6 separate regions of the Homo sapiens genome follow, and regions 1, 2, 3, 4 and 6 are each linked to region 5. Evidence: fine-mapped expression QTL. A gene starts in region 5. Each other region holds a variant in brackets. All regions are shown on one strand. Distances are from middle to middle. Region 1 overlaps LOC105374797 (a long non-coding RNA gene). Region 2 has its middle 40 kb from the start of MPHOSPH10. Region 3 overlaps DYSF (dysferlin). Region 4 overlaps PAIP2B (poly(A) binding protein interacting protein 2B). Region 5 holds the start of DYSF (dysferlin). Region 6 overlaps ZNF638 (zinc finger protein 638).

Region 1 (5,389 bases), 200 kb after region 5:
AGAATATTGAATATTGGCCCCCAATCTCTTCTGGCTTGTAGGGTTTCTGCTGAGAGGTCAGCTGTTAGTCTGTTAGTCTGGTCACCTTTGTAAGTGATCTGGCTTTCTTTTTTTTTTTGAGATGGAGTCTGGCTCTGTTGCCCAGGCTAGAATACAGTGGTGCAATCTCGGCTCACTGCAAGCTCCATCTCCTGGGTTCACACCATTCTCCTGCCTCAGCCTCCCAAGTAGCTGGGACTACAGGTGCCCGCCACCACACCCAGCTAATTTTTTGTATTTTTAGTAGAGACAGGGTTTCACCATGTTAGCCAGGATGGTCTCGATCTCCTGACCTCGTGATCCACCCGCCTTGGCCTCCCAAAGTGCTGGGATTACAGGCTTGAGCCACCGCGCCCAGCCATGATCTGGCCTTTCTCCTGGCTGCTCTTAACATTTTTTCTTTAATTTCAACCTTGGAGAATCTGATGATTATGTATCTTGGGGTTGATGGTCTCATGGAGTATTTTACTGGGGCTCTCTGCATTTACTGAATTTGAATGTTGGCCTGTCTTGCCAGGTTGGAGAAGTTCTCCTGGTTGATATCCTGAAGTTGGTTTTCTAACTTGGTTCCATTCTCCCCATCTCTTTCAGGTACCCCAATCATTTATACGTTTGGTCTCTTTACATAATCCTATATTTCTCAGAGGTTTTGTTCATTCCTTTTCATGCTATTCTGCTATTGATACTTGTGGTTGCATTGTGAAGTTCTTATGTTGTGTTTTTCAGCTTCATAAGATCAGTTATGATCCTCTCTAAACTGGCTATTCTGGCTATCAGCTTCTGTATTGTTTTATCACGATCTTAGTTTCTTTGCATTGGTTACAACATGCTCCTTTAGCTCAGCAAAGTTCATTATTACCCTCCTTCTGAAGCCTACTTTTGTCAATTCAGTTATCTCAGCCTCAGCCCAGTTCTGTGCCCTTGCTGGAGGGTGTTGTAGTCATTTGGAGGAGAGGCATTCTGGCTTTTTGAGTTTTCAGTGTTTTTGCATTGATTCTTTCTCATCTTTGTGGGCTTATCTGCCTTCGATCTTTGAGGTTGCTGGCCTTTGAATGGGGTTTTTGTGGAGTCTTTTTTGTTGATGTTGTTGTTGTTTTCTGTTTGTTTGTTTGTTTTACTTTTAATAACCAGGCCACTCTACCAAAGGGCTGCTGTGGTTTACTGGGGGTCTGCTCGAGACCCTAGTTGCCTCAGTTTTTCCCATACCTGGAAGTATCACCAGTGAAGGATACAAAACAGCAAAGATGGCAACCAGCTCCTTCCTCTGGAAGCTCCATCCCAGGGGAGTACTGACCTGTTGCCTGCCCCAACATACCTGTAAGAGGTGGCTGGAGACCCCTGTTGAGAGGTCTCACCCAGTCAAGAGGAACGGGATCAGGGACCCGCTTAAAGAAGCAGTCTGGGCCGGGCACGGTGGCTCACGCCTGTAATCCCAGCACTTCGGGAGGCTGAGGTGGGCGGATCACGAGGTCAGGAGATCGAGACCATCCTGGCCAATATGGTGAAACCCTGTCTCTACTAAAAATACAAAAATTAGCCCGGCATGGTGGTGCATGCCTGTAATCCCAGCTACTCAGGAGGCTGAGGCAGGAGAATCGCTTGAACCCAGAAGGTGGAGGTTGCAGTGAGCTGAAATTGCGCCACTGCACTCCAGCCTGGTGACAGAGCTAGACTCCATTTAAAAAAAAAAAAAAAAAAGAAGCAGTCTGGCTGCTTTTTGGTAGAGTAAGTGTACTGCATTGGGGGGACCCTTCCTCATCCAGATCATTTGTAGTCTTTTGGCCAGCAGGCTGGAACGGCTGAGTCAACCAAACCACAGAGATGGCAGCTGCCCCTCCCCATGGGAGCTCCATCCCAAAGAGGGATGAGAGTTCTATTTTAGAACCCTGGCTGGAGTGTCTGAAGCCCCTGGAGGGAGATCCCGCCCAATGAGGAGGAATGGATCAGAGTCCTGATTAAAGAAGCAGTCAGACCACAATCTAGCAAGGCCGCTGTGCTGCGTTGTGGAGGACCCTTCCTCGTTCGGACTATTTGTATTCTTCAAAGCCATTAGGCTGGAACAGCTGAGTCTGCTACTGAACTGCAGAGATGGCGGCCGCCCCTCCCTCTCTGGAACCCAGACCCATCTCAGGCAGATTCCAGCCTGTTGCCATTGGCTGGCTGGAATTCCAAGCCAGTGGGTCTTAACTTGTGGGGTACGATGGAAGTGGGACCCACAGAATGATGCTGATTGGCTTCCTGCATTCAGCCCCCTTCCCAAGGAGATGTAGGGAGGGATTTCCCACCTTGCCAGGGATCCCGGGGCTGGAGTATGTAAAACTCCCTAGTCTCTGTGTGTGCCTCAGCTGCTGCTCTGCCAAGATTCCACACAGCTCTCTGCTTTGGACCCAAGGCCCAGGTGGCATGGGCTCAGGAGGGGAACTCCTGATCCATGGGGTTGCAAAGATCTGTGAGAGAAGC[G/A]TGGTTTCCCAGGCAGGGTCGCACAATCACTCACTACTTCCCTTGGCTGGGGATGGGGGTTCCCTTGGCTCCCTGTAGCTCCCAGATGGGGTGTCGTCCCCTGCCCCCTGCTTTTCTTCATTCTCCGTGGGTAGAGTTATTTGCCTAGTTAGTCCCAATGCAAGAACCTGGATATTTAAGTTGAAGGTGCTGAATTCACTCGCGCCTTTACATTCCCTTCAGTGAGTGCTGTGGACTGCAGCTCCTTCTAATCGGCCATCTTGCAACAGCTTTCAAATCTTTCAGTCTTATATCCACATGTCATTTTCTTTTCCTTTTTTTTTTGTACAGAAGACTAGATAATATGCATGACATGGTTAAAATTTTCAATTGTGTCAAAAATATATGCAGTGAAAAGACAGTTTTCATCCTCCACTGCCTCCTGCCCCCAGCTTTCTTTCCTCTTAGACTACCACTGTTGACCAGTTTCTTGCATATCCTTTCAAAGACATTCCATGGGTTAAGAAAAATTATAAATGTATATATGTATGTATTGACTATATTGTAAGGTACGGACTTAAAACATTCCATATATGTTACCAAATTAATATCCATATATAGTTCATGTCAGTTGTGGCTCCCATAACAATTTGTCAGGACCACTGTTTCAACACGTCTCTATACAGTACATTATCAAATTTAATTTTTAATTTTCTATTCAGTTGTTGGTCTTTTTAAAAATTGTAGTGCATAGATATGTATACATGCATATATATATATATAAAATAATGAAAGTAGTCCAATATGAATAAATTACTTATCTTTTACCCCCTTTGTCTTTTGGCTTGTTTACTGTATTTTTGCAGTGAATTATTATTATTATTATTATTATTGCAACAGGGTCTCACTCTGTCACCCAGGCTGGAGTGTAGTGGCAGCCACAGCTCACTGCAGCCTCAACCTCAGGGGCTCAGGTGATCATCCCTCCTCAGCCTTCCAGGTAGCTGGGACTACAGGCATGTGCCACCATGCCAGGCTAATCTTTTGTAGAGACAAGGTTTTGCAGTGTTGCCCAGGTTGGTCTCAAACTCCTGGACTCAAGCAATTGGCCCACCTTGGCCTACCAAAGTGCTGGAATTACAGGCATGAGCCACCATGCCTGGCTGAATTATTTTTGATTTTCATATAGTCACATTACTTTTTCTAACTTTCTAGGGTTTTTTGTTGTTGCTTTTACTCTTTCCTAGAAAGGCTATCATATCCCCAAGATTTAAAAAAATTCTCCTATGGTAGCATCTAGTCTGCTTGATATCTATATGGTTATAGTATATAATATACTGTATGTATATGTGTATATATATGTGTATATATGTGTATATATATACACACACACCAATATACTATATAATGCAAATAATCTATTATAGAAATAATATCTGTTATGACAAAGAAATAAATTAGGGCCGGGCATGGTGGCAGCAGTTTGGGAGGCTAAGGTGGATGGATCACTTGAAGCCAGGAGTTCAAGACAGTGAAACAAAAACCACATGATTATCTCAATAAATGCAGAAAAGGCCTTTGACAAAATTCAACAACCTTCATGCTAAAAACTCTCAATAAACTAGGTATTGATGGGACGTATCTCAAAATAATGAGAGCTATCTATGACAAACCCACAGCCAATATCATACTGAATTGACAAAAACTGGAAGCATTCCCTTTGAAAACTGGCACAAGACAGGGATGCCCTCTCTCACCACTCCTATTCGACGTAGTGTTGGAAGTTCTGGCCAGGGCAATCAGGCAGGAGAAGGAAATAAAGGGCATTCAATTAGGAAAAGAGGAAGTCAAATTGTCCCTGTTTGCAGATGACATGATTGTATATCTAGAAAACCCTGTTGTCTCAGCCCAAAATCTCCTTAAGCTGATAAGCAACTTCAGCAAAGTCTCAGGATACAAAATCAATGTGCAAAAATCACAAGCATTCTTATACACCAATAACAGACAAACAGCCAATTCACGAGTGAAATCCCATTCACAATTGCTTCAAAGAGAATAAAATACCTAGGAATCCAACTTACAAGGGATGCAAAGGACCTCTTCAAGGAGAACTACAAACCACTGCTCAATGAAATAAAAAAGGATACAAACAAATGGAAGAACACTCCATGCTCATGGGTAGGAAGAATCAATATCATGAAAATGGCCATACTGCCCAAGGTAATTTATAGATTCAATGCCATCCTCATCAAGCTACCAATGACTTTCTTCACAGAATTGGAAAAAAGTACTTTAAAGTTCATATGGAACCAAAAAAGAGCCTGCATTGCCAAGTCAATCCTAAGCCAAAAGAACAAAGCTGGAGGCATCACGCTACCTGACTTCAAACTATACTACAAGGCTACAGTAACCAAAGCAGCATGGTACTGGTACCAAAACAGAGATACAGACCAATGGAACAGAACAGAGCCCTCAGAAATAATGCCACGTATCTACAACTATCTGATCTTTGACAAACCTGACAAAAACAAGTGATGGGGAAAGGATTCCCTATTTAATAAATGGTGCTGGGAAAACTGGCTAGCCATATGTAGAAAGCTGAAACTGGATCCCTTCCTTACACCTTATACAAAAATTAATTCAAGATGGATTAAAGACTTACATGTTAGACCTAAAACCATAAAAACCCTAGAAGAAAACCTAGGCAATACCATTCAGGACATAGGCATGGGCAAGGACTTCATGTCTAAAATACCAAAAGCAATGGCAACAAAAGCCAAAATTGACAAATGGGATCTAATTAAACTAAAGAGCTTCTGCACAGCAAAAGAAACTACCATCAGAGTGAACAGGCAACCTACAGAATGGGAGAAAATTTTTGCAACCTACTCATCTGACAAAGGGCTAATAT
Region 2 (5,389 bases), 300 kb after region 5:
CAGAGTTCACATCTACTGTCCCGATTCTGACGGAGGCCACCTGTGGTAGGCAGTTCCACTGGTTTGCGCTGCGCATGTATGAATATAGCCTCCAGATCTCCCCCAGCTTCCCACCCTATCCTTCATGCAGAGGTCACTATATGTTTGGATAGATGCCAGGGTGCCACGCGGCCATGTCTGCCAATGGGCAGGGGGACAACTATGAAAAGGCTCTGCACTTGGGGCCCTCAGGGGTACCACTGGCTCCATGAGCCTCCTATGGCAGGACAGGCTGATCCTGGTGTGCAAAGCCTGGTCATCTCACTTCCATTCCTATTCTGGGCCAAGCACTCCTGGGGCCTCAGTCTCCTGCCCCTGTGCCAGCCTATGGGTGGTAGGATTCTGAGGTCCATGCTGGGTTAGAGCAGTAGGTCTCAGCCAGGAGATATTGTCACAACTAGGGAGAAGGTGCTGCTGGTATCTAGTGGGTCAAGGTCAGGGATGCTACTAAACATGCTACAGTGCACAGGACAGCCCTCAGAACAGAGGTCTATCTAGTCCAAAATGTCAAAGAGAAAGCCTGGGTTATGGGAAGGGGTGTCCTCCAGAGAGCATGGCCTTAGATTTTCAGCCCCTCTAAGAATGAGATGTTCCTTGTTTATTTTCTCCATCTCTCATTGGCCTAGTTGTAGGGGAGGGAAGAGTTAGACCAGGGTAGGATCCAAGCACTCCTGATCCTCTGAGCCAAATATGGTTCTCCAGATAGCACAATTTCCTCTAAAAATGCAGTCCGAGATGGAATGGGTAAGAAACCTGCTTCCTTCCATCTTCTAGTACATTGGCTTTAAAAACTCATCGTAAAAATATGAAAAAGACATTTACTGTAGCACTGTTCATAACTGAAAAAGATAAAAAAAAAAAACAAAAAACCTAAATGTCCACTTAAAAGGACCGGATAAATAAATTATGATACATTCATGCAGTGGAATTATATGCAGTTGTTAAAAGAGTGAGGTAGCTCTAAATATAATGATATGAAACAATCTCCAAGACATATTATTAAGAATCCCATGGCCAGGCACAGTGACTCACACCTGTAATCCCAGCACTTTGGGAGGCCCAGGTAGGAGGAGGGCTTGAGCTGAGGAGTTTGAGACCAGCCTGGGCAACATAGTGAGACCATATCTGTACGAAAATAAAACAATTATCTGGGCATGGTGGTGCACACCCGTGGTCTCTGCTACTTGGGAGACTGAGGTGGGAGGATCACTTGGGTCCATGAGGTCCAGGCCGCAGTGAGCTATGACTGTGCCACTGCACTCCAGCCTGGGTGACAGAGCAAGACCCTGTCTTGAGAAAGAAAAAGGATACCAGCAAGATGCAGGAACAATATGCCTGGTGTACTAATACTTGTATGAAAATATTTTAAAATACTATGTAAACCTAGATGCTGAGTGTGAATTAGACACGCTCAGAAAAGACACTGGTTGTCTCTTGGGAGGGGAGCTGGGGCTGGGACGGGGAAGGGATAGAAGAGAGATTTACTATTCACTCTAGGTCCTTTGCAGAATCATCATTGTGGTATGTTTCATTGAATAGAAGTTTAAATACCTTACTGAAGTCAAATCTATCACCATTTTTCTTTTGAGCTTACACTTTTAATATTTTTTTCTTGAGACAGAGTCTCGCTTTGTTGCCCAGGCAGGAGTGCAGTGGCTCAATTATAGCTCAATGCAGCCTCAAACACCCAGCCTCCAGGGATCCTCCCACCTCAGCCTCTTGAGTAGCCAGGACTACAGGCATGCAGCAGCACACCCAGCTAATTTTGCACATATATATACACACACACACACACACACACACACACACACACATATATATATATATAGAGAGAGAGAGAGAGAAAGAGAGAGATGGGGTCTTGTTGTGTCACCCAGGCTGCTCTGGAACTCCTGGGCTCAAGCAATCCTCCTGCTTCAGCCTCCCAAAGTGCTGGGATTACAGGCGTGAACCACAACACCCAGCCACTTTCAGTATTTTATTTAAGAAATTACTTTCTACATGTTATGGACTGAATGTTTGCGTCCCCTCAAAATGTATATGTTGAAATCCTAGCCTCCAATATAATGGTGTTAGGAGGGGGGGCCCCTGGGAAGTAATTAGAAGGGAGGAGCTCGCATGATGGGATCAGTACCTTTATAAGGAGAGATTCAGGAGAGTTTCTTCCTGTCTTTCTTGCTCTCTGCCGTGTGAGGATACAAGAAGATGGCCCTCTGTGAACCAGCAGGTGGGCCCTCCCCAGGAACCAGCCATGCTGGCACCCTGATCTTGGACTTCTAGCCTCAAGAACTTGGAGAAATCAATGTTTGTTGTTGAAGCCACCCAGTCCATGGCATTTTGTTAGAGCAGCCCCAACTAAGACACTGCTCCAATCATAAGGATATCCCCCTACGATTCCTTGTAATTGCTTTCAAAGTTTTGCTTTTCACAGCTAGATCTTTAATCAACCTGGATTTTATTTTTGGTATGATGTGAACTAGGGATCTAGT[T/C]GTATTTACTTTCCATATGGAAAATCAATTGTGCCAACACCATTTGTAGAATATTCCATCCTTTCCCCAACAATCTACAATGCAACTTCTGTCTCATTCCAAGTTTCCATGTGTCATGGGTCTTTTGCTGGGTTCCTGTTCTCTTCCAGTGGTCGATTTGTAAATCCCCTTGACAACACATCACTGTCCTAATTCCTATGACATTATAGTATGCACACAAATCTTAAACGTTCCATTACCCACCGACCTCTATGTTACTCTCATTCTTTAAAAATATTTTCACTTGTGGCTGGGCATGGTGGCTCTCACCTGTAATCCTAGCACTTTGAGAGGCCAAGGTGGGCGGATCAAGAGGTCAGGAGATCGAGACCATCCTGGCTAACACGGTGAAACCCCATCTCTACTAAAAATACAAAAAATTAGCTGGGCATGGTGGCGGGCACATGTAGTCCCAGCTACTCGGGAGGCTGAGGCAGGAGAATGGCATGAACCTGGGAGGCGGAGCTTGCAGCGAGCCGAGATCGCACCACTGCACTCCAGCCTGGGCGACAGAGTGAGCCTCCATCTCAAAAAAAAAAAAAAAAAAAAAAAAATATATATATATATATATTCACTTGTGTTCCACTAGAAGCAGAGCCTGAGTCAAGGATTTGGGTGCAAGCATTTTTTTAGAAGGTGATTCCAGGAAGCCCAGGTAAGAGGGTGGGAAGTGAAATAGGTAAGGGAAGAAAGCTAACAGACAGTGCATTAACGAGCAGGTTGCCACAAAGGGTAACTGGGGTTCAATCTCACTGGGCCCTTCAAAGTTATTCCAACTGAGGGGTGGGGAAGCTGCAATATTTATCCACCAACTCTCATTCCTCATGGCTGTTTTAAAATGCACTGAACATTTATTTTAATCAGATATGGTAAGACACACAGACATGGACATGACTGTCCTGAAGGAAAGAGTTTTTTTATACTCAAAGTTTCCTAGAAACAAGAGCCACGGCATGCTATGCAGGGATACATAGGGAGGCACCAGGGTTGGTCAAGAAGTCAAAGGAGTGAGGGGAAAACATGGGCAAGAGCTTTATTTGTGGCATCCAAGGGAAAGGCAAGGTAAGCAGGCACAGGATTAGCTATTAATAGTTTGAATAATTTCATTCCGCTCTGGGGCCTAGGGCTCTCCCCAGTTGTCTGGCTCATGGCCCTGGGATGATGAGGGCAGAGGGACAGTGGCCCAGTGTAAGAGCCCGATGAAGGAAGTGGTTGGGTCTACGGGCTTTGGATTGGCTGGTTTGCATATGGGAGGTGCACTTGCAGGTGAGTCCTTTACTATCTCTAGGAACTGGCTAGCCCTGGGAGGAGCATTCTCTCCAGGATCAGCAAGGCTCCAGCTGTCAAAACATCAGGAAATACAGGAAATGAAAAGGAATGATGAATACATTGAGTGTGCTCTTGAAGGCATGTATGTGGCTGGCAATGCTGAGGGCTATGGGGAGGGCACCAATGGTGTCTGCTACACTATTCTTGGCCCCTCAATGACTACATGAATTTTAGGATCAGCCTGTCAAATTCCACAAAAACTTCTATTGGGATTTGTGTGGGAATTGCTTGAATTTATAGATTAATTCAGTGAGAAGTAATATGTTTATAACATTGAGTCCTACTATTCATAATATATACAGTATATATTTCAATTTAGTCAGTTCTTCCTTTAAGTCCCTGGGTAGTTTTTATATTTGTCTTAGTCCCTTTGTAGTGCTATGACAAAACACCTGAGACTAGGTAATTTACAAACAACTGAAGTTTATTTTCTCAGTTCTGGAAGTTGGGAAGAACAAGATCAACGCTCCAGCAGGTACAGTGTCTAGTGAGGGCCTGGTCTCTGCTTCCAAGATGGTACCTTGAATGCTGGTTCCTCTGGAGCAGACAATGCTATGGTCTCATGTGGCAGAAGGCAGATTTACCACCATCCCTAAGCCCTTTTATAAGGCACTAATCTCATGCATGAGGGCTTGCCCTTATGACTTAATCACTTTTTAAAGGCCCCACTTCTTCATACTATCACCTTGGCAATTAAGTTTTAACACATGAATTTTGGGAGACACATTCAGGCTATAGCAATACTCTTCATGAAAGGTCTTGTGTATATTTTGCTAGATATATTCTCAGGATTTTGTTGCTATTGTGAATAGAATCTCTTTTTCTATTACATTTTCTTAATTTGTTATTACTGATGTATAGGAATGCTAATCTTTTTTTAAGTTGATCTTGAATTCAACAACCTTGCTAACTCTCTTACTAGTCTTAATAATTTATCTGTATATTCTTCTGGATTTTCATCATAGGCAATTATATGGTCTGCAAGTACAGGAATTTTTCTTTCCAATTTAAAATTATTTCCTTCGTTTTTTTTTTTTAAGATGGAGCCTCACTCTGTCGCCTAGGCTGGAGTGCAGTGGCACGATCTTGGCTCACTGTAACCTCCACCTCCCAGGTTCAAGAGATTTTCCTGCCTCAGCCTCCTGAATAGCTTGGATTACAGGCACCCACCACCATGCCCAGGTAATTTTTGTATTTTTTTTTTAGTAGAGATGGAGTTTCACTATGTTGGCCAGGCTGGTCTTGAACTCCTGACTTCAAGTGATCCTCCTGCCTTGGCCTCACAAAGTGCTGGGATTACAGGCATGAGCCACTGCACCTGACCTTTATTTACTTTATATATCTCACCTATTACTGCTGCAGTTTGCAGAAGAGAGGATGCCCTCAAACCTAACTTCTCCAAACCATCCCAAAGGGGAAGTCTGCTCCACATCAACAATGTTATTGTTTTTAAAGACCATAAGTCAACATGTTAGATTATAGCAAAATGATGT
Region 3 (5,184 bases), 100 kb before region 5:
ATGTGAGCAGGGAGGCAGAAAAGATGCAACTTGACAACATACGTCCTCCAAGTCCCAGACAGAAGGGCAGAGCCCCAGAGTCAGTGTCCTGCCACCACTGCACCCCACACTTTCCCTTTGGAAATCAAAGCATGAAGTCTCCGGAGGTAAGAGGGGGCAAAGAGAAACATGCCCCACCTGTCCCTGAGCACCAGGTGCCTCCAGAGACCAAATGTCTAGACCCCACCTGCCCCTGAGTGCCTGCTTTACCACATCGGTGTAGTTGTCACTCATGTAGATCCACTGGCCTCCGGGAAGCCGGGTCTGGTTCTCAAACACCTCTTCCACGAAGCTCAGGTGACCGGCGTCCATGTCATGGAGCAGACTGTGGAGGAGGGCTGGTCAGAGTCTCTGCTGCTCTGCTGGAGAGGCCCCCATCCATCTACCACCTCCTGGAGAGCACCCCTGCGTATGTCAGCCTCACCCCAACCAACAATGAGAGACATGGGGGGTGGGGAGGGAAGGGTGCAAGAGACCAAGGCAGACAGTGAAAAGGAGACCTAGGGACACTCCGAGATAATCGGGGACAAAAGAGCACATCACCCAAGATAAAGAGAAAAGGGGGCCAACTGAAGACAGCAAAAGGAGGATGGGCAGTCGAGGCTTGATGGATAGTTGTAAAAATATAAAGTTTTATCAAGTTGTGCTCATAAGATTTGAGTGCTTGACTGTATAATATGTTATACTTCAATTTTTTTAAGTAAAAAAAAGTTAAACACCACAGAGTTGAATGCCAACCAAACAGGAAAAGGAGAGGAGAGAGAGGCAAAGGCGGCAATAGACATGGAGAAGGACCACGTGGATCTGAGAGGGACTGACAGAGAAAGGACCACTCAGGGGATGTGTGAGCAGCCCAGACACGAGAAGGGTTCACGTGCAGAGGAGGTGATGGGCTTGTCCTGGGTGTCTTTGAGGATGGGGCCACACCCAGTGGGCACCACACAGAACGAAGGCTTAAGAATAAAGGCCTGGGCCAGGCGCGGTGGCTCAAGCCTGTAATCCCAGCACTTTGGGAGGCCGAGGCGGGTGGATCACCAGGTCAGGAGATCGAGACCATCCTGGCTAACATGGTGAAACCTCGTCTCTACTAAAATACAAAATAAAATTAGCTGGGCGTAGTGGCAGGCAGCTGTAGTCCCAGCTACTCAGGAGGCTGAGGCCGGAGAATGGCGTGAACCCGGGAGGTGGAGGTTGCAGTGAGCCGAGATCGCGCCACTGCACTCCAGCCTGGGCGACCGAGCGAGACTCCGTCTCAAAAAAAAAAAAGAGAGAGAATAAAGGCCTGGCCAGGCGTGGTGACTCAAGCCTGTAACCCCAGCACTTTGGGAGTTCAAGGAGGGAGAATCACTTGAGCCCAGGAGTTCAAGACCAGCCTGGGCAACACAGTGAGACCCTGTCTCTACAAAAAATTTAAAAATTAGCCAGGCATGATGGCGCACGCCTGTGGTCCCAGCTACTCAGAAGGCAGGAGCAGGAGGATCACCTGAGGCCAGGAGGTTGAGGCTGCAATGAGCTGCGATCATGCTACTGCACTCCAGCCTCCAAACAGAGTGAGACTCTGTCTCAAAAAAAAAAAAAAATTTTTTTAATGAAAAGAATAAAGGACTGTCTGACCATCCAAGCCCTTCTGGAAAGGACTGCTGCCTGGCAAGCCTCAGTCCTGGGAGAGTTCAGCGGAAGTTCCTATGACCAGCGCAGGAGCAAGCAGAGGGATCAACAGACCCCAGCCTGCCTCCAAAAGGAGGGTGCAGTCCATGGTGGGCAGCCTGGCCTGGCTCTCCCCAGCCCTCCCTGCCCACGACTCACGTCTTCTCCGGACACACGAACCAATCTCCAGCCCAGGTCCAGCCGGCCGAGGGGCGGAAGCTGTCCTTGGGTAGCTTGATCTTGCCCGTGACGTCAGAAAACTTGGGGTAGGTGAGGCCCGTTGTGCCCCAGTTCCCAACAAGGGCCAACTTAGTCTCGTTCTCATACTGGAGGGCCAGGAAGAATGAGGCGTGAGCAGGGGGCCAAGGCAGCTCCAGGTAGTGGGAGGCAGAGGTGGGGGCTGGCAGGTACTCACGGTTTCAGCAAAGACAGACAGCTTCCCCTCAGCAAACTGGTTGAACTCCTTCTCATCCACTGAGAGCCCAAACCACAGCTTGACCCGTATCTGCACTGGCATCCGGGCGCCAGGCACCTTCTCCATCGGATACTGGGTACCAGAGAAGGACAGAAACCCACAGTCCCCTTCAGGATCCGGATGTCCCAGTGAGAGGCTGGGGAGGAGGA[G/A]TCCTCCAAGCCTGGGTAGAGCAGGCTGACACCCTCACTGGGAGTGTCCCCTGTGGGAGCGCTTACCAGAATTGCATAGAAGGGGAGTGTGCAATTAAGAAACGTCCACCCCACCCCCTACCCCTCACCAAGATTCCTCCCCATCAAAGGCAAAGGCTACATCATTCCCTCCTAGGAGCGCTCTGCAGAGAAGAACCATGTCTAGCCCAGGACCTCTCCTCTCCCCTTCTCCCACCACAGCCTCGCTTCCATTTTCTTCTGGAACAGTGCTTGCCAATGGAACTTTCTGCTATGAGGAAAATGGTTTATATCTTCACCATCCAATATGGTAGTCAACTAGGCCCATGTAGCTACCGAGCATTTGAAATGTGGCCAGTATGACTGCGGAGATAAAGTTTTCGTTTCATTTACTTTTAATTAATGTAAATTTAAATAGCCATCTGTGGCTACCATATTGGACAGCACAGTTCTAAAACTTGTCTCTAAAGGAGATACAATGATACAGATCTGGAAAGAGAAGAAATTAAAGCCTCCCCCTCCATGTTTAGTATTTTATTTCTTTGGTTACTGTATCATCTAATATCCCTACCCTTTCAAGTGATTATCAGCATGTCAACCACTATTCACTGGTCTTCAACTGCTTTTTTTCCTGAAACTTTCAGAAGCTCTGCCAAATGGAATAACCACAACAACCCAACATGAAACAAAAATTATTCTCCACAATTACTTCACCATTTGATTGAAACCAAAGGTCAGACATGGCCTGAGGAGCAGAAGCTCCTGCTCTTAAAATTCACATTGTCCCCTAGAGGAGGCAACACATTAAGTACCCAGGCCTAGTGTCATGAGCTCAGAGCAGTATAGCCAAGTGAGAAAACGGGTGGGTTCAGAAGATGAAAGGGCAGCTGAGGTAAGGGGTCCCACGCTGGTCAGGGAGGCCTGGATCCCTGGAGGGAGAGCCCAGGGCAGGTAGGAGGCTCAGGAAGGGGCAGAGGACATGCCAAGGCTAGGGCCACCTCACGCTTCCCTCCTGCGGACACAGCCCCCCTTCTTTTGGTTCATCTTCAATGAAGCCTGTAGGAGCCCCTGAGTCCACGTGTCATGCCCCGGGGAAACCTCTCCATGGCTGTTCGCTTCGGCTGTCCTCTCCCCCGGGTGGTTAACTGCCTTTACCCTCCAAACCACCAGCCCCAGGGAGATGGCAGGAATGCCTGACCCCCACTTCCCCCATCCACCCCCGGCTCTCTCCCCTGTCCTCCCCGAGACGGGGCCAGCCTGCTGGACCCAAAATAGCAACAGCAAATAAAGAAATGTCTAGTTTGGGGCTCCTCTCTCTCTCTGCTGGTGCTCATTTTTTCCAACTTTGGTTTAAGTTAAGAAACACCAATGTTTTCTTGGTCTCTGCTTGCTGCCAACATTTTTGTAGAGCTTGCTCAGGAGCTACTGGCGGGGCTCATAAACTCAGTGGGGAAGACTTCGAGAAACAATTCTATATCTTTTTTTTTTTTTTTTTTTTTTTTGCTTGAAACCAGGGAAAATTTTCAGTTTGCATTTCCCTGAGGCTACATGGCCAAGAGGTCAGAACCTGGAGCTCATCCCCTCCCAGCAAGTCCACCAGGCACAATTCAGCAGCACCCCCCGCCCCGCCCCCGCCACTCTCGCAGACCGCCTTCCCCGGTCAGCCCCACTCAGATATGGCCACTCCTTGACTTCCTTTCCTTTCTGCCCTACCAGGCCAGGAACTGGCTTAGGAGGTAGACTCTCAGAGGTTAGGCTCTGACAAGCACAGGAGGTTAGAATCTAATGGGAAACATGCCCCAGGTGGCATGTGAGCAGGTGGATGGGGGCAGCCTGCTGCCCAACACACACACACACAGACACACTCACTCACACAACTGTGTGCAGACATCTACTATCCCTGGCCTTGAGTTGGCCTCCAGTCATGGCACGCATAGAGCAGGGGAGCTCCCCAAAAGGAAAAGGGGAGAGGTGGGGAGAGAAACTAACATCCATTGATCACTTAGTTCCAGCAAGACCCATCACCTGTGTCACCTAACTCAACCCTCAAAACCTGTAAAGTGGGCAGCCCCACCCACCCTCATTTTACAGATGATAAGACAACAGGCAATTCAGAGAGGTTAAGCAACCTGCCCAAGGCCACATAGAGCTCCAACCAGCCCTGGCATCCTCTGTGCTACTGAAACCTGCCCTCTCCACACCCCCCAGGGGACAACAAGAGGACTGGCCAATATATGAATGCATCAGCATCACTCAGGGGGCTCTGCTTCAGGGTTCCAGGCTAAAGTAAGTCAACAACGACTTCCTGGAAGAGGGGAGGAGGGAGGAGAGATGTAGGGAAGGGGAAGGTCCAGCGTGGAGGGGCTTTGGGGAGGTGGACTAGGCTGGATGAAAGTCTGGTGCCTTAGGCTGAGGAGTCCTTGAATGCTAGTAGAGCTATTCAGGGCAAATGAAAAGAGGTAAGGAGGGCTGGCGCGGTGGCTCACGCCTGAATCCCAGCACTTTGGGAGGCCAAGGCAGGCGGATCACCTGAGGTCAGGATTTCGAGACCAGCCTGGCCAACATGGTGAAACCCCATCTCCACTAAAATTAAAAAAAAAAAAAAAAAAGAGCTGGGTGGGTTGGCAAACGCCTATAATCCCAGCTACTCAGGAGGCTGAGGGAGGAGAATCCCTTGAACTTGTGAGGCGGAGGCTGCAGTGAGTGGAGATCACACCACTACACTCCAGCCTGGGCAATAGAATGAGATTCCAACTCAAAAAAAAAAAAGGTAAGGAGCAGGCCTGCTTCTCAGGGCCACTCCTCCCCAAGCAGGGGCAGCCTTGCTGACAGCTCTTCAAGGAGGGCCCTCCCTTG
Region 4 (5,389 bases), 280 kb after region 5:
GGTGGCTCACGCCTGTAATCCCAGCACTTTGGGAGGCTGAGGCGGGTGGATCACCTGAGGTCTGGAGTTCAAGACCAGCCTGGCCAACATGGAAACCCCATATCTACTAAAAAAATACAAAAATTAGCCAGGCATGGTGGTGCGCGCCTGTAGTCCCAGCTTGGAAGGCTAAAGCAGGAGAATTGCTTGAACCTGGGAGGCAGAGGGAGGCGGAGTTTGCAGTGAGCCAAGATTGCACCACTGCACTCCAGCCTGGGCAACAGAGCAAGACTGTCTCAAAAAAAAAAAAAAAAAAAAAGTCTGTGAGCAATATAGTTTTCATACAACTCATATTCTGAACAATCTTGCCCTGTGGTTTGCTAAGGTTTTGGATATTCACAAGAGAGTAGAGAACCAAAGAGAGTACAGAAAGATGAAGAAAAATAGAGATTGTGGTATCCAGCCTGGTCTGATGGAGTACCCTGGTTTTCACCAAGTTAAGGTACTCAGTGAATTGAAAAATTATTCTTGGAGTTGAACTTACAGGCCTCTGATGAGATTTTGGAAAGCATCAGGAAGGAAACAAGAGTCCAAAGAAGGAAGGAGAAGATGAGCTTGCTCAGGGCTATGTCAGGTGCAGTTGAGATAACCTAGCAATAACAGCCTGAGTTACAAGGAATTTTCTTTCTCTCCCTAAAGCTAAGGGGAAGGTACTGATAATGATGGACTGGGTAAGTTTTAAAATGCAGCTTGCCTTAGGATTTACTATCTCTTGGTTCTTATTTCAGAGCAAAAGTAACCTGAACCCAGATGCCAAGGAGTTTATTCCAGGAGAGAAGTACTGAGCCGAGAAAGCTTTGAGGAAGACTTGTCTGTCCCCACATCTGGGGATAGTAATGCACAAAATGGTGGAGCTGAAGAGGGGGATGGGGCGGGCGAGGGGTGCACAGCGGGAAGGGGAGTGGTGGTCTCACAATACTGTGACTCTGAGTAACTAATATGCTCAGTCTTATTCTAAGCCTCTGAGTATTTCTATTTTGTTCTGCTGACTTTTGTTTGGGGAGTTTCCTGTTTTGTTTTTTTAAATAGCTCTTTCGAGTTAAGGAAATTGCATTTTCCCCCCTTCATCAGAAGTGTTCCGCGGTGTGTATTTAAACAAAATAAGCTGACTAAGAAAAACTGGATATTTAGGAAATGCCCCTCTCACCCTGCTGTATACTTATCAGGGACAGTGAGCACCTGGAGAGCTTTTTGTGGAATCTATTGAGTTGGATGGGAAAAGGGACAAGCAGAAAGAGCAGGTGGTGCAAACTGGAATTTGAGGCTCAGCTGCCCCACCCCCGGGGTCTCCTGCAATGAACTCGGATAACCAATGTGCTGTCAAGCCCTTGCCTGTTTGTCCTGAACCCCATTCAAGAAAACACAGACTTAAAGTACTTAGTTTACAGTAACTTTTGATGATTGTTGAAAGTTGTAAATCAGAAGGTAGGGCTGTGATGGTGGTTGTCACTTGAGTCATTTAGTTACTGTTGTCCTGTTCATAAGCCTGTGTTCACCACCACCATCAGACTCACCATTTATAAGTAGAAGAGCACTAGGGTTGATCTGCCACCTCATCTTTCATGAAGTCTATTCCCCAGCCTCCTTTTTAAGAAAAGATACTGCTACCAAAGGCATAGGGGAGGCCTGCTGTGCTGGCAATTAGCATGAGCCTGCAGAAGTCATCCTTGAATCTGTTGTGTCTTAATTTTATTTGGACAGTTTTTTTTTCCAGCCTCATCAACACTTGGTCTTCCTGGTGTCTTAATTCCCTCAGACAAGTTTATGCACTTTTTTAAGGAAATATTTTTCAGGACACTAGTAAGAAGCTCAGTTCACAGTTTGGATATTTCTTCCCACATTACAGAATTATGGAAAGGAACTCAAAATCAGCCTAGGAAAGTGAGTCCTGCTTGACCCATGTGACTGTGTACCTGACCTTCTGGGATCTTTTCAGCTATTAAAACATTTTACTGTTCCCACATACCCAGCTTTGCAAGTTTTGTAGATTGACCTCTTAGGGTGTGTTTCTTTGTCTTTCCTGCCTTTAACTTGCTGGGGTCTTTTGTTGCTACCCCTAAGGAACTAAACTGGGTGCCAGGAGCTACCTTCGTGTATAGAGATGTAGATGGCAGTGTGGGGTACAGGAGAGCCATCCAGGCCATTCTCCCAGGGATGAGGAATTGGAGAGCCCTGAAGATAATAGTGGCTTCTTTCTGATTGCTACTGTGCTGTGTGATAGGCCTAATAGGGAAAAGATATGTAACTTGAAACAAAGTTGGTATAAATTCAGTATGTGGCTGTGGGACAGAGGTTGGAAGGAAAGGACTAGGGTATGGAAAGCTGAAGAAATTCTCCTTATGAGCTCTCGTTGACTTTTTGAACAGTGATAAGCTAATGCCAGATTTAAAATACACATTTTTTCCTATTTGAGTCTTTAGGATTATATCATTTGAAAAAATTGCCTTCCTTGTTAGGTCACATGTCATAGGAGAGTAGCTTAGAGAACTTGCATTACCAGACAGACACATTAATTCCCAAAGCCTCTATGTTGAGAGAATGAAACTGTTAACTCTTTTTCAGAGAGGACTATGAATAAAGAAACTTCTTTATTCAAGCTTCAGCTTTCAGCTGGGTTGTTTC[C/G]TCTAAAAGGGAAAGGGCATTGCAAGTGCATAGAGGAAATCTCTCCCTTCTGGGACTGCTTTTCCTCCTTCATCCTCGTGAGCCTGTCCAAGCTCAGAATTCCGAAGGCTGTTAGAAATGCGTTGGGATTGCAGAGAGAAAGGAGCTTGTCTTTCCTTCTGCTGTGCTGGTCTGTTTTGGATGTCAGTCTTCAGGACTATGAAAACTTCCTGCCAGTTTAGCATGGACACTGAGGGCTGGCATTTCTAGTCTTCTTCAGACACTGAACATACTGACTCCAGGTATAGGAAGCAGCTAGCAAATTGATTCTTTTTTAAATGCATAGGACTCTGCTTCCGGCGGTTCCTCTTGTAGTCCAACTCTTTTTGCCATCTATTTATGTTGGGAGGTAGGGGCACAATTGTCACTCACAACACAGGCTAGTTAGAGTTTGCTACCTTCTTAGCAGAAAATGCATGTGTGTCTTGTTGGACCTTCACTGGGGAAAGGCTGGGAGCCTCTGGCTGTCAGTGACTTTTCTCACAGAAGAAGAACCAGCAAGCCAGACTGGACACCTTTACCCTTTAATGGTAAGACTTGTATTTATAAGGGGTAATTTTGATGTTGAATTTAAGCCACTACTTTGTTTAAACTTTTTTAAATTGGCAACTAGAAGTTTGAGAATTTGTATAGAAATGGAACATGTATTTCTAACAGTTGCCAATCTGGCTGGTCCCAATGTTAGTTTATTAGTGATTGATCTGTAATTATTGGGATTATTTATTCAACTCTAAAATTCCAAGATGAAAATAATTTATCTCTTTCTTTTCAAGGGAAAAAACCCAAATGAATGCATTTTCAGTTTCTCCAGGCCTTTGAACTGCAGCAGAAAATTCAAGGATACAGCCTAGGCCTGGGCAAATGCAGCCCTGGGTCTTTGGGCCAGTTTCTGACAATAATAGTTGAGTTTTGGGAATCACATAAGGGTGAAACCAGAAACGATCCTAAGGAAAGGCTTGACCTTTGTTAACACCTTTAGTTTCCAAAGTCACAGCAGCTGGGGTCCCTCTTTTTTTTTTTTTTTTCTTTTTTTTTGAGACATAGTCTCACTCTGTCACCCAGGCTGGAGTGCAGTGGTATGACCATAGCTCACTGCAGCATCAAATTCCTAGGCTCAAGCAATCCTCCCATCTTAGCCTCCCGAGTAGCTGGGACAACAGGTACGCACCACCACGGCCAGCTAATTATTTTTATTATTTTTATTTTTTGTAGAGACTGGATCTTGCTCTATTTCCCAAGCTACTCTTGAATTGTTGTGCTCAAGTGATTCTCCCATCTCAGCCTCCCAAAGTGCTGGGATTATAGGCTGGGTGTGGTGAGCCACCCCAGCCTGGGGTCTCTTTAATTAAGGTTATAATGCTAACCATGGCTTAAAATACTAAGCAACATTTTCCAAATTGTTTATTACTATTGCTTTGATTTTGGAGAAGCTGGGAAGTAAGGAGGTGAGGTGAATACTCTGATAATTAACACGTGTTAGAGAGGAAAGTTGTGTGAAGAGGCTGCCAAAGTAAACAGCACGAATGAATCTTCTTGTACTAGGGCTGCTGCAAACCCCAGGTAGACAAATGACAGCCCAGGCTCCTGAACCATCAGGAACCCAGGAATCTACCCAACTGTGAGGAGGGGGCAGGCCTTCGTCAATAAGGGTCCCACCATCACGGGCTAATAATCTTTCTCAGTTTAGGTGATATTGAGGTATTGAAACTGTTAGAAATCTGACAGATTTGACCAAGATTTGGAGACGTCCACATAATTGGGAAGGACTGAGTGTCCCTAGCCACTCTCCTCTGGGATAACGCGGACGTCATTAGTTTGCGAAGTGGGTGGGGAGAACAGGAGGATTGACTCTAATTTGGTGTGTAGTGGGGGCCTTGATGTCCTTCTGCCTCTGTCCACATTTCCCCATGTGACTCATTGCACCCTGCATTGCTCACAGGGATCATTAGTTCTCCCGGTAGACAGAGCACCTCTGCAGCCTCTGCTCTGCTGCCTTGTGAATTTCCTACACAGACTTGGTTAGTTACAATTTGGAAACAGTTTTTTTGGGTTTTTTTCCTTTGTTTTAATCTTCTCACAATGAAGCTGCTATTGGTGACAGGGACAGGGGAGCAGGAAGCCAACCCAGGGAAACATGCGAGTTTCCTGCACACCACTTAGTCACCTGCCCTCACTGGCCAACCCCCTACTGCTGTTCCCAGTCAGTCTGGTTTTTAGAGGCATCGTGGCAATAGAATAGCTGGATACACTAATCTCTACAAGGTGTCAGGCAGGAGATTCACCTTCCCCAGTCCCAGGGGACAGGAGAGAAATCTGTAAAGGGACAGATGCACCATCTTTATTTCAAAAGAAAAAGCTCCCTCAGATTGTGTTACTAGGAGTCTCTTTTGTGACATTTACTGAGCTTTCTCCCCAATCTTACCTTCCTATTGGCTACTTTTTAAATAAAAATAAACATTTTAGGCTAATATGACAAAAATGAGATAAAATCTTAAAAACATTGTACTAGTGTACAGTTACTAAAATGTGCTTACTACAAAACAGTAAAATATTTCACTCTGTAAATCATCACTAAGTAGTTATTCTGTCCTGTTGATTATGAGCCTCCAAAAATGTTTAATGCTTGAAGGATGGTTTGGGAGGCAGGGAATCCTTTTCTTAAAACAACTTTAATGAGGCATATGTTACA
Region 5 (5,389 bases):
AGCCCCATACATTTCAGGCTGCCTGTAGGAGCCAAACACACAGTGCAGGCTGGCTTCTCTGCAAGCAGGCCACTGTCCCATCTGTGCCATGAGGAGCTGGGCTCAGTGGTTCTCAACCCTGACTGCACATTCAAAACACCTGGAAATTTGACAGAAACAACACCTATGCCTGGGGCCCCACCGGAAGGGATCTGGCTTCAGAAAAGGCAGGCAGGGAGGTTGGCAGTGGTCTTTGGTGAAGCTCCCACACACAATGTTGACCTGCAGCCAGAGTTGAGTCCCCCCAGCCTACATGCTCTGTAAGTTCTGAACCTGGTTCTAACGGTTTCCCTCCTTAGGCATCAACTCAGCCCCAAACTCCCCAGTGAATGCTCCCGCAATGGGGAGCGCATTAATTTCACCTGCCATCACATCTCAGACCCATTTTTCCCAAGATGCGGTTCCAAAATAACCTGCATCGGGTATTTGTTAAGTGCTGATTCTTAGGTCACCTTCCAGACCTGCTGCATCGGAACCTCTACAGATGGGGACTCTGGAATCTGTTTCTCAAACACGTTCTACAAGTGATTCTCAGGAACAATCAAGTGAGCGGACCATGTCCCAGACTAAATGAAGCTCCCAGGCACACCTGGAGGATGGCTAGAGGCTGGGCCAGAAAGCGCACAAACACTAGAGAGCACCTACTTGTGCTCAGCACTGGGACAAACCAATGAACAAATAGGACAGGTCACTGCTCTCAAGGCACCTAAGCATGGAGCTGAGCACAGGCCAGTCAGGGCGAGGGTGCTAGCATCCCTAGCAAGGTGCTGCTGCTTGTCATCCAGAGAGGAGAGACTCTTGAGAGCCAGGGGGATCCAGGGTGTCCTCCTGGAGAAGGTGGCATTGCCCTGGGCTTTGAAATACAAATAGACTTGAAACGGTTGGAGATGTTACATTCTATTGTATGGTATTTCTGTTTTCCGAGGAGATCATCAGTGCAAATAAATAGTAAGGCATTACAAAGAAGGAATACAGAGATCTGGGGGGAGATAGCAGCTGCACGTGTTCGGGGTACTTGGGCGAGGGCAATAGTAAAGAGGGGCCTCAAGGGATTTGGTCATCTTCCCGACTCAAGGGCAATACCCACTCCAAGCGCTGGTAGCTCCCTGCCATGACCACTGACCTGAACACATTTAACTTCCCTGGGTTTCAATTTCCTTATTTGCAGAATGGAGACATTGGTAGCCACCACAGGACTGTTACAGGACAAGGGAAAGAGCTGTGAGCAGACCCAAACGAGTGTTAGAGCATCCAGAGCCCTATGCTAATGTGTGCCCTGCCCAGTGTCCTTAGGGAATTTCTTTTCCAGCCAATGGTGACACCGCAATTTCTGCATAGCAAAGCCTTAGGCAGCATCAGGTGGACACTGGAGAAGGAAAGACTTTGTCTTGAAGTTGCTCTTGCATAGTGAACTCCCAGGCATGTCACCAATCAATGAAAATAGTGAAATTTTCTTAAACGTTTCAAATCACATCTTTCAAAAGAGGAATACATATAACTTGTCCCACAGCAAAGAATAAAAGCTACACATAAATCTCCCTTTGCCAAATCATGTCTTTCATCTATCATTATCTTGGGGGTGCTTGGAGATATGATTCAGATCATGGGTCAGACTGAAAAGAGTTCCCTTGGTGCCTGCACTGAAGGAGGCTTATGAAAACACCAGCTACTCTTCCTTCTTCATTTGACTATCTTTTCTGATACGTAGATTTTTATTATTATTATTATCGATTCCACAAAGCTACAGGGTATGGCTCCTGGCTAAGTGGAAACCCTCTTTCCTCTCCTGATTTATCTTTCTCTGCAGAACTGGGGTCCTGACTCACAGCTATTGTTCCTTCTCTTAATTTTGACAGATCCTTCCTCTTCCCTTTCCCCTCCTGAGACACCCGCTCCAGTGGGAATCTGCCTTGGAGGGGTTGGGGGAGGGGGTTCAGGACGCCTGGTGAGAAGAGGAGTGTGTGTGTGATTTCTCTGCTGCCCCACACAGAAATACCTGTATGTATTCTAAGCACTACATGTAGGGACTTAGCTTCTTGAATTTAGAGAAAATATCCTTGACATTCCTCAAAACTCCTTGTGTCAAGGCCATTTCCATCCTATTCTGTTCCTTTTCCTACTGATTAAGACGGGGCAGATTCAATACAGCCAATGTTGGATAAAGATGGGTGAATGAATGAATGAATGAATGAAAAAAGACACAACTTTCAAAGCACATCATCTACACGCCCCGTTTTTCAGAGGCCCTGATTCCTCTCTACCTTCTGCACCCATCTTCCAACTTACCCTTATCCCCACTACCCAGTAAAAGCTCGGACTTTATTTCCTCTGGGTGTCAGTCTTAGAAAAGTGATAACCGCTGACCTACGGCACTTTCGCTTTTCCAATTTTTCAAAGCCCTGTGGCATTTATTGTGCTCTGCTTATTCCTCATCGCCCCCCTGCAGAAGTCGGGGCTGGGATTTCCGTCCCTGCTGACAAAGGGAGAAACTGTGGCCTGGACTAGGGTTAGCTCCGGAGCAGGGGCTTCAGACCCGCCAGTGAGCGCCGAGAGTCGGGTAGCACCCGAGCATGGGCGCGGCAGCCACGGGGCTCTCACCTCGGAAAGTCAGGCTTGCGACAGGGTCGCTGCGCCGGTCCTTCTTCGCACTGGGGAGGTTGCTGGCCCTCACCAGCAGGCAGCACAGCATGGCTGGGCAGCCCCGGCGGCACACAGGCGCGCAGTCAGGGCGGGAGCGGGAGCACCGGGCCCGAGCACCCACCCAGCAAGCGCCCGGCTCCCAGGCAGCCGCGCCAAGAGAGCTGTCGCCTTCGCTGCTCCTCCGCGGAGAAGTGACCAATGCCTGGGAGAGGCTGCAGGGAGGACACCGGACACCCGCTGGGCGGACCCTCCCCCTCCGGCCCCTACCCAGATCCGCCCTGCCCGCGGCGGGCGGGGAGGGACAGGGGTCAGACGGGCGCCTGTGGGGGTGCTGGTCCCTAGCTCCGCGGGTCCCAGCTCCCGGCCAGGAACGAGGCGCCGCTGACGCGGGCGCGCAGCTCGGCCTCCGAGAGCGCACAAGGCGCCGTGGGGCCTGCTCCGCGGGGGCCTCCGGTGACCAAGGCTCCACACCAGCCAGGGATCCCGGGCCCGGTGCGCACCGGTGCCGACTTGGCAGCCGCCCTGTGCGCTCGACGAAAGGGTGAGAAGGAGGCAGGAGTGCAGGCGGAAGGAGTGGGCAATCAGCGGCGGGGACGAGAGTGTGTCTTCGGGGAAACCAAGTCTGAGTGAGCGCTGAAGGGGGAGTGTGCGGAGCGTGCCGTGCACCCCGAGCCCCCCGCCTCATTGCCTCTCGCCTCTCTCCACCTGCCCCATGATCTGCGCCAGGGAGCCGGTCCTCTCCCGTCCGCAGGCTGTCTAGGTGGCCGTTCTGGTTTGCTGGGACCCCCGGGTCGGGAGAGACTCCGAGGTTCGAGTCCCCACCAACCCTCCTCGGAGCCTTCTCCGCAGCGGTGTCGAGTCACTCATCTCTGGAGGCAGAGATCTGTATTCAAATCATACTGCGTTCCCTGGAGAACTAGGGTCCAGCTGCGGCCCATTCTGTCCCCTGCAAGTCCCCCATCCCCAACAATCTCTACACTCCCTAGTCTCCACAGTGGAAAGCTGTTCAAGGTGTAAGCCATGAACGGTGACAGTCGTTTCGCTTATTATGTCTGGTTCCTTTCCAGCGTATGAACTTCTTGACACAGGGGCCCTGGCTTCGCACTTCTATCCCCCAGCACTCCAGCACCTAGCCCCTGTCAGGGCACTGTCCGTCTTCCCACCGCCCAAGTCCTCACTAACCAACCTGCTCACTCAGCCTAAACGCACTGCTGCGCAAAATCTCAACTCCCTTTCCCCTCTCTTATTTTGAGGGATACAGCATTCTCACAGGGCTAAGCCATAACCCTGGCGAATCCAACTCCGCCTCCTCCACACCTGCCCCCAACCAGTGCTGTGTTGGAGAGTAACACAGCCGGCCTGAGTGGTGCCTTTTGTAGTCATGACCCTTAACTCAAGCGAGCCCTCACTGCTGGGGGCAATCATACTATATGTCTTGTCTCCCTGTCTCCCGGATGCCCCTAGGACACCCCATCGCCCAACCTCACTCTCAGTTTGCTTCCTCTTTACGGAGCAGAGAACTTCTTCAGGTCCCCAGTCTCCTTCTAACGCCCGCCCTCGGCATCTGTGCCCAAATCCTGTGAGTTCTCTCCTGTTCCTACAAATGAATCACCCGTACTCCCCACTGGTAACAACTGGACACTTGGGCATAGACCCCATCCCCTCTCGCCCATTCAGTGGTGAGCCTGCAGTGATTCTCTCACTCTCTTGCCTTACCAAGTTCCCCTGTTTACCGGATCATCCCATCGGCACACAAGCATGATGTTATTGCTCTCAAGAAAGCACACCGTTGACCCCACATCCCCTTCAGCTACTGGTCATTTCTCCCTTTTCACAACAATGCCCTTTGAAGGAGCTCTCCATACTTTCTGTCTCCAATCTCCCTCCTCCATTCTCTCTTGAACCCACCCAGTGACACCTTCAACCCCACCAGGTCACCAAAACTGCAAATCCCCCTCCCACTCTCCTTCAAAATATGTCCAAAATCCCACCATATCTCACCATCTCCATTGTAACTGCCCCCAGTGGAAGCCTGTCATCCCTTGCCTGAGTCATTTAATCGACTCCATGGACTCCCAATGCGTCTCCTGCTCTGCCCTTGTCCCCATGGTCTATCCTCAATTCAATTCTCATGACCTGGTTCTACTCAAAGTCTTCCGTTGGCTCCCATCTCACTCAGTGCAAAACTCAAAGGCCTTACGTGACCTTGAAAGCCCTGGCTGACCTCGCTGACCTCCTCTCCAGCCACTCTCCCCTTACGTGACCTTGAAAGCCCTGGCTGACCTCTCTGACCTCCCCAGGACCCATGCTAGCCTTCCAGCTGTTCCCCAGACAGGCCAGACCAGCGCCTCCCCAGGGTCTCTGTCAGCTGTTCCCTCTGGCTGGCATGTCTTCCTTTCCTTCAGATATCAACTCCAGTGAGACCAACCCGGCCACACAACTGAACACCACAACTTTCCCTCTTTCATCTCCCTTTCAGGCTTCTTCTCTAGCACCAATCACTGTATAGCACATGTGTCTTAATTGTTTTCTGTCTTCCCCATCAGAATGTCTGCTCCAAGGAGCCAGGGGTTTTTGTCTGTTTTGTCCACTGCTGTTTCCTCAGTGCCTGAAACAGCACCTGGTGCAAAGCATGGTCTCCATAAATTCTTTCTAAATGATGGACTGAAAGAATAAACATTCACCCATCACCTCTGACTTGCTGGGAATA
Region 6 (5,389 bases), 110 kb after region 5:
GTGTATCAGGGAAACACACTCCCCATACTTTAAAGGCCTAAACTTTCATTTAAGTAAACCGGCCAGCATATGCACAGAAGTGTTAAGAGGTACAAGATACGAGCTTAGGTTAAGGGTTAAAAGAGAGAAGACAGTTCATCTACTTTACAGAACTCTAGGGAACACCACTCCTATCATATTCCATATGGCAACTCACAGAATACAACATGAATGGTGCCCCTTAACTTGCCCCAAGTAGTCCTCATAAAGATATGTCCACTGAGAGGAATCAGGAGAGAACTCATAGAAAGGGTTGCTTTTCAAGTAGCCCTTACAAAGATCTATTAATAGGAATGGATCAGGTTAGATTTCATGCAGTGGCAATATGTAAACTAAGATTGGAGGCAAAACATCGGTGTTTTGTTCCAGGAAGTGGTCTGGCTACAGCATAGACATGATGAAAAGGAATTATAAAGGGGGAAACTTGGACAGGCTGTCTGTTGTTTCAGGTAGAGACAAATTACGAAGAGCCTTAAAATCAGGTAATGAGGTTACACACAGGAAAAAAACAATGGGAACTTAACGAACATTTGTAAGAGAAGATAACAGGAATGTTTTCAGAATAAGTGTAAAGGAATATCTGGAATTAGGGGAAAAGATGAGAGCTGAGATATTTAGAAATCAGGCATGTAGAAGCCGCAATTATAGCCCTAAGAGTGAGACTAACACAAGATGAAGTTTATAGGAAAAAAGAGAGCCGAGGACAGAATCTTAGGCACATCGACAACTTTAGAGTAAAGCAAAGAAAAAAAATAATAAAAGATTAAGAAGCAATCACGGAAAAACTAGTAGGAGAAACAGTAATATCATAGAAGCCTAAGAAAAAGGCTGTATCTTCACTCTCAACTTCTAGAAAATCTGAACTCTAAGAGGCATCTGGACATGCTGATTATATTAAATAAATAAATCACTACATTTAAGAATAAAATTTCAGCAGCAAGATGAAAGCCAGGTAAGGAAATGGAGGCAGCAAACTTCTGACAAATCACCTAGCAGGAAAATAACGTTAGGTCGAACCTTATTAAAGTGGTTTGTCTTGGTTGCTATTTGCCTCAGACATTGTTAATGAGCTAACCCCACAGCAATTCTCAATTCCCTTTTCCCTTGTTTGCCTTTATTACAATGGCAAAAAAAAAGCTAAATATTTGCTTTCCCACTATCTCTAGAAGACAGCCAGTGGTAAGTTCTAACCAATGAGATACAGGTACAAAACCCCTGACAGACATCTGAGAAAGCGTCTGCCTCATTCTTCTTACTTTGAGAATAGATATATTGTCTGGAGCATCTTTTAATTATGAGAGGACAAACTGTGAAGACAAAAAAGTTAACTTTAATCCAACATACCCATCATCTAGTGTCAACAATTCCCAATATATGGATAATTTTGTTTCATCTATTTCCACACTTTTTAAAACTTTCATTGCTCTGTACCACCCAGGAGGATAAATTCCTAGTCTTACAGTGATTCAAAGCAAATCTTTAATCATCAAACAAAACTGGGTTTCACTATAGGTGCTGTCATTTAATGGCTAAGAAACTTAAAGCCAGTTACTTAGAATGTGTAAGCCTTAGCTTTCTCACATGTATATGCTGGAAATGAAGGTGATTAACAACACATCAAAGTTATTAAATTTCCAGGGGGTCTCTAGTTTATGGTTCACAAGAGCTTGAAGACTAATATTCAAGAGCTGGTAATAATGGTGGAGCATGGTGGCTCATGCCTGTAATCCCAACACTTCGGGAGGCTGAGGTAGGCAGATCGCTTGAGCTCAGGAGTTTGAGACCAGCTTTGGCAACCCTGTCTCTACCAAAAATACAAAAAATTAGCTGAGCGTGGTGGCACTCACCAGTGGTCCTAGCTACTCAGGAGGCTGAGGTGGGAGGATCACTTGAACCCAGGAGGTGGAGGTTGCAGTGAGCTGAGATAGCAATAAATAATATTGTTGATCTTCATTAGGTTCAGGTTCACCAAGTTCAGACCTGTTCACTAGGTAACACATGTTCTCATCTCTGCTGCCCAGAGCAGAAAGATAAAGCATGTATACATTCTGCAAGCAGAATTTGGAAACACCTCTATACTGCCCAACTAGTCAAAAATGTGCTTCAGAAGCAATAACGCTCCCAACAAAGGTGGTATAACATTAACTATTAAGAGCAAGGACCTAGTTAACTGATATTATCTTTGTCCCAATGTGATGCAATAAATACACATCACCAACGAAGCATTTGCAACAAAAATGTTCTCAGTGAATTTAATGCTAAGGAAACAAATAGAAAACTATAG[G/A]AAGTGGGACATTCAACAAGTTTCCCAGACATTTCAAGGAAAAAATCAACACCACAAAAACATCCTTCTCAAACAAAAAAAAAAGACAAACAAAACAAAAAACAAACGAAACAAAGAGTAGGCTATTCTAGATTAAAAGAGACTGTAATGCATAAATCTTAACTGAATACTGGATTGAGGGTATGGATGGGGCAAACAAGAAGAATTATAAAAGGCATTCTGGAAAGAAATGGGAAAATATGAATTTGGCTTATATATTAGAAGGAACTGTGGAATTATTGTTAATTTCCTTAAATGTGTTGTATTGTGGTTATGCAGAACATCCTAATACTTCGGAGATACATGCTGAATTTAGAAATGATGTCCCATAATGTCTGCAATTTATTTTCAAATAGTTCAGAAAAAAATGTATGAAGATATAATAAAGCAAATATTAACAAATGGTGAATATAGATGAAGAACACATAAATGTTTTTCTTCCTTTTTCTCTTCAATATTTTATTCTGAAAATTTTTTAAGCCATAAAAAAGTAGAAGGGATGATAAAGGCCCATGAGCTAAACTAGTTCCATTTAACTATGTGCTGCATGATGGTAGGGAAATTGTCTCTGTGCCTCACTTCTCTCATTGATAAAGTCTGGAATAATCCTTATACTTAACACCTCGTAGATGGTTTTGAAGACTAAATCAATTATGTAAAGCACTAAGAATGCCCAGCACACAATAAACACAGCATAATTACCTATTTTTAATATTAAAATTCTGATGCACTGTTATCTTTCCTCAACTACTCTTGTATCATAATCCAGAAAGAGCCAATAAAGCCAGAGAGAATAAGCCACAAGAAAAGAAAAATCTAAATATACATCAATGGAGGAATGAGTAGAAAGAAGGTATATCCCTATAACACAGCTTAAAAGAATAAAGAATGCAGATCCCAAGCACCTAACCAAATCTATTTATTAAATTATTTTGCAGTGGAGAGAAAGTTATGAAGCAATTATTCAAGTGCATACAACCTGAATGTGATGGTTAATTTTGGGTGTCAACTTGACTAGATTGAGGGATGCTTAGATGGTTGGTGAGGCATTGTTTCTTGGCATGTCTGTGAGAGTGTTTCCAGTGAAGATTAGTCTGTGAGTCAGTGGGCTGAGTAAGGAAGATCTGCCCTCAATGTGGGCGGGCATCACGCCATAGGCTGGGAGCCCAGATGGTACAAATAGATGGAAGAAGGTGGAATTCCCTCTCTCCACCCCTCCTTCCCTCAGAGCGGGATGCCCTTCTCCTCCTTGTTCTTGGACATCAGAACTCCAAGTCTTATGCAACTTGCATCAGCAGGCTCCTGGGGCTATAGGGCCTTTTGCCTCAGACTGAGAATTATGCTATCAGCTTCCTTGGTTTGGAAGCTTTTGAATTTGGACTGAGCCACACTACCAGAAACCCAGAGTCTTCAACACACAGACAGCATATTGTGGGACTTCTCCGCCTCCATAATTGTGTAAGCCAATTCCCCTAGTAAATCCCCTGTCATATATCGATACATAGGCATACCTCAGAGATACTGTAGATTCAGTTCTAGAACATCACACTAAGCGAGTCACATAAGTTTTTTGGTTTCCCAGTGCAAATAAAAGTTATGTTTAGACTATGCCAGTCTATTAACTGTACAATAGCATGTTTTTAAAAATGAACATGTATTAATTAAAAAGTACTTTATTGCTAAAAAATACTGATCATGAGCCCTCAGCAAGTCAAAATCAAAGATCACTGATCACAGATTGCCATTAACAGGTATAGTAATAATGCAAAAATTTGAAATACTATGAGTGTGACTCAGGGACACAAAGTGAGCACATGCTGTTAGAAAAATGGCACCGATAGGAAAGAGTCCTGACTGACCCAGTAGAGACAAGGGAAGAGGGAGGCCCTGGATCTGCCATTGTGATCAGAGTGAGGCCAGGTGAAGAAAAATGTGCAGAAGGTAAGAAACTGTGAAGGCATCATGAGGCCTGGTTAGGAGACACAGCCTGGAGAATTAGGAAAGACATACTGTTATTTTAAATTTCAAACCACAGTTACCTGTGTAACGAAAGAACCCTTAAGCCCCACAATAGGAAAAAGTGGAAACTGACCCAGAGGATGCCAGATCGAAGGATATATCCAGTTGCAGTTCTTACCAGCATACAGGTGCTAATACACACACTGTTCATTTTCAGCTTCAGCTCTTGATTGCTTTTGGCAGCAAAAGCACTGCTCAAGGCCCAGACGAGAGAGCGATTTGGTATTAGGGGAAACTGATTAAAATGGATTCTTGAATGGTGCTCCCCAAAAGATACATACATATATATGTTCCAATCCCTGGAACTTGTGAATGTTACCCGATTTGGAAAAGGATCTTTGCAGATGTAATCAAACTAAAATTCTTGAGATGAAATCATCCTGAATTATCCAATGGGCCCTAGATCCAATAGCCAGTGTCTTTCTAATAGCAGGGCATAGGGAGGTTTAAGGGAAGAGAAGGTGGTGTGAAGACAGTAGCAGAGATAGGAATGATAGGCTACAAGCCAAGGAATGTCAATGATTGTCCCCAGTCACTAGAAACTAGGAGAGAAGCATGGAACAGATTTTCCCCCAGAGCCTCGGAAGGGAATGGTGGCCCAACTAACACCATGATTTCAGACTTCTGGACTCTAAATAGAAATTTATTCTCTCCCAGTTTAAGTCAAAAAGAAAAAAACAAAAAGAAAAATGGCACCAGTAGACTTGACACAGGGTTCCCACAATCTTTCAATTTGTAAAAAAGGCAAATTATGGGAAGTACAATAAATCGAAGTGCAATAAAAGGAGGTACGCTTGTATTTATATATATCTCCCCTATTCATCTCTGTGGAGAACCAAAATACACTGGATATGGTTAAAAAATAGAGTAGAACATTAAAGTAGCAGGCATGGAAAGCAAATGCTTTAAATCAGGGTCCTACATGTATGAAAAAAATAATAGGCTTACCTACACTAAAGGCTTTAATAGATATATACATGCTGTTTGCTCAAGTAAATTAACGTAGCT

Evidence for each region. PIP is the estimated chance that this variant, and not a neighbour inherited with it, causes the effect. A credible set is the group of variants that fine-mapping cannot tell apart.
Region 1: its variant is the best candidate, but not a certain one, in a credible set for the expression of DYSF in whole blood (TOPMed, PIP 0.63).
Region 2: its variant is the best candidate, but not a certain one, in a credible set for the expression of DYSF in whole blood (TOPMed, PIP 0.52).
Region 3: its variant is the best candidate, but not a certain one, in a credible set for the expression of DYSF in whole blood (INTERVAL, PIP 0.74).
Region 4: its variant is the best candidate, but not a certain one, in a credible set for the expression of DYSF in whole blood (INTERVAL, PIP 0.75).
Region 6: its variant is the best candidate, but not a certain one, in a credible set for the expression of DYSF in whole blood (INTERVAL, PIP 0.55).

What each region holds. Positions count from the first base shown.
Region 1 is chr2:71,266,403-71,271,791 of GRCh38, reverse strand. The region is part of intron 2 of LOC105374797 (a long non-coding RNA gene); the gene reads left to right. Among named protein-coding and RNA genes, the nearest start is that of PAIP2B, 42 kb to the right of the region's middle. The variant G/A (reference allele first, on the strand shown) is at 2,500.
Region 2 is chr2:71,167,578-71,172,966 of GRCh38, reverse strand. No RefSeq gene overlaps it. Among named protein-coding and RNA genes, the nearest start is that of MPHOSPH10, 40 kb to the right of the region's middle. The variant T/C (reference allele first, on the strand shown) is at 2,529.
Region 3 is chr2:71,565,000-71,570,183 of GRCh38, reverse strand. DYSF (dysferlin) reads right to left here. Exons shown (of 56, transcript NM_001130987.2): 25 at 2,102-2,233; 26 at 1,846-2,012; 27 at 250-364. Among named protein-coding and RNA genes, the nearest start is that of DYSF, 100 kb to the right of the region's middle. The variant G/A (reference allele first, on the strand shown) is at 2,311.
Region 4 is chr2:71,183,914-71,189,302 of GRCh38, reverse strand. PAIP2B (poly(A) binding protein interacting protein 2B) reads left to right here. Exons shown (of 4, transcript NM_020459.1): 4 at 768-5,389. The coding sequence ends at 824. Among named protein-coding and RNA genes, the nearest start is that of PAIP2B, 40 kb to the left of the region's middle. RefSeq lists enhancers at 4,339-4,838, 4,839-5,340. The variant C/G (reference allele first, on the strand shown) is at 2,662.
Region 5 is chr2:71,464,182-71,469,570 of GRCh38, reverse strand. It overlaps DYSF (dysferlin), which reads right to left and starts at 2,872. Exons shown (of 56, transcript NM_001130987.2): 1 at 2,638-2,872. The coding sequence starts at 2,728.
Region 6 is chr2:71,357,602-71,362,990 of GRCh38, reverse strand. The region is part of intron 3 of ZNF638 (zinc finger protein 638); the gene reads right to left. Among named protein-coding and RNA genes, the nearest start is that of ZNF638, 29 kb to the right of the region's middle. The variant G/A (reference allele first, on the strand shown) is at 2,324.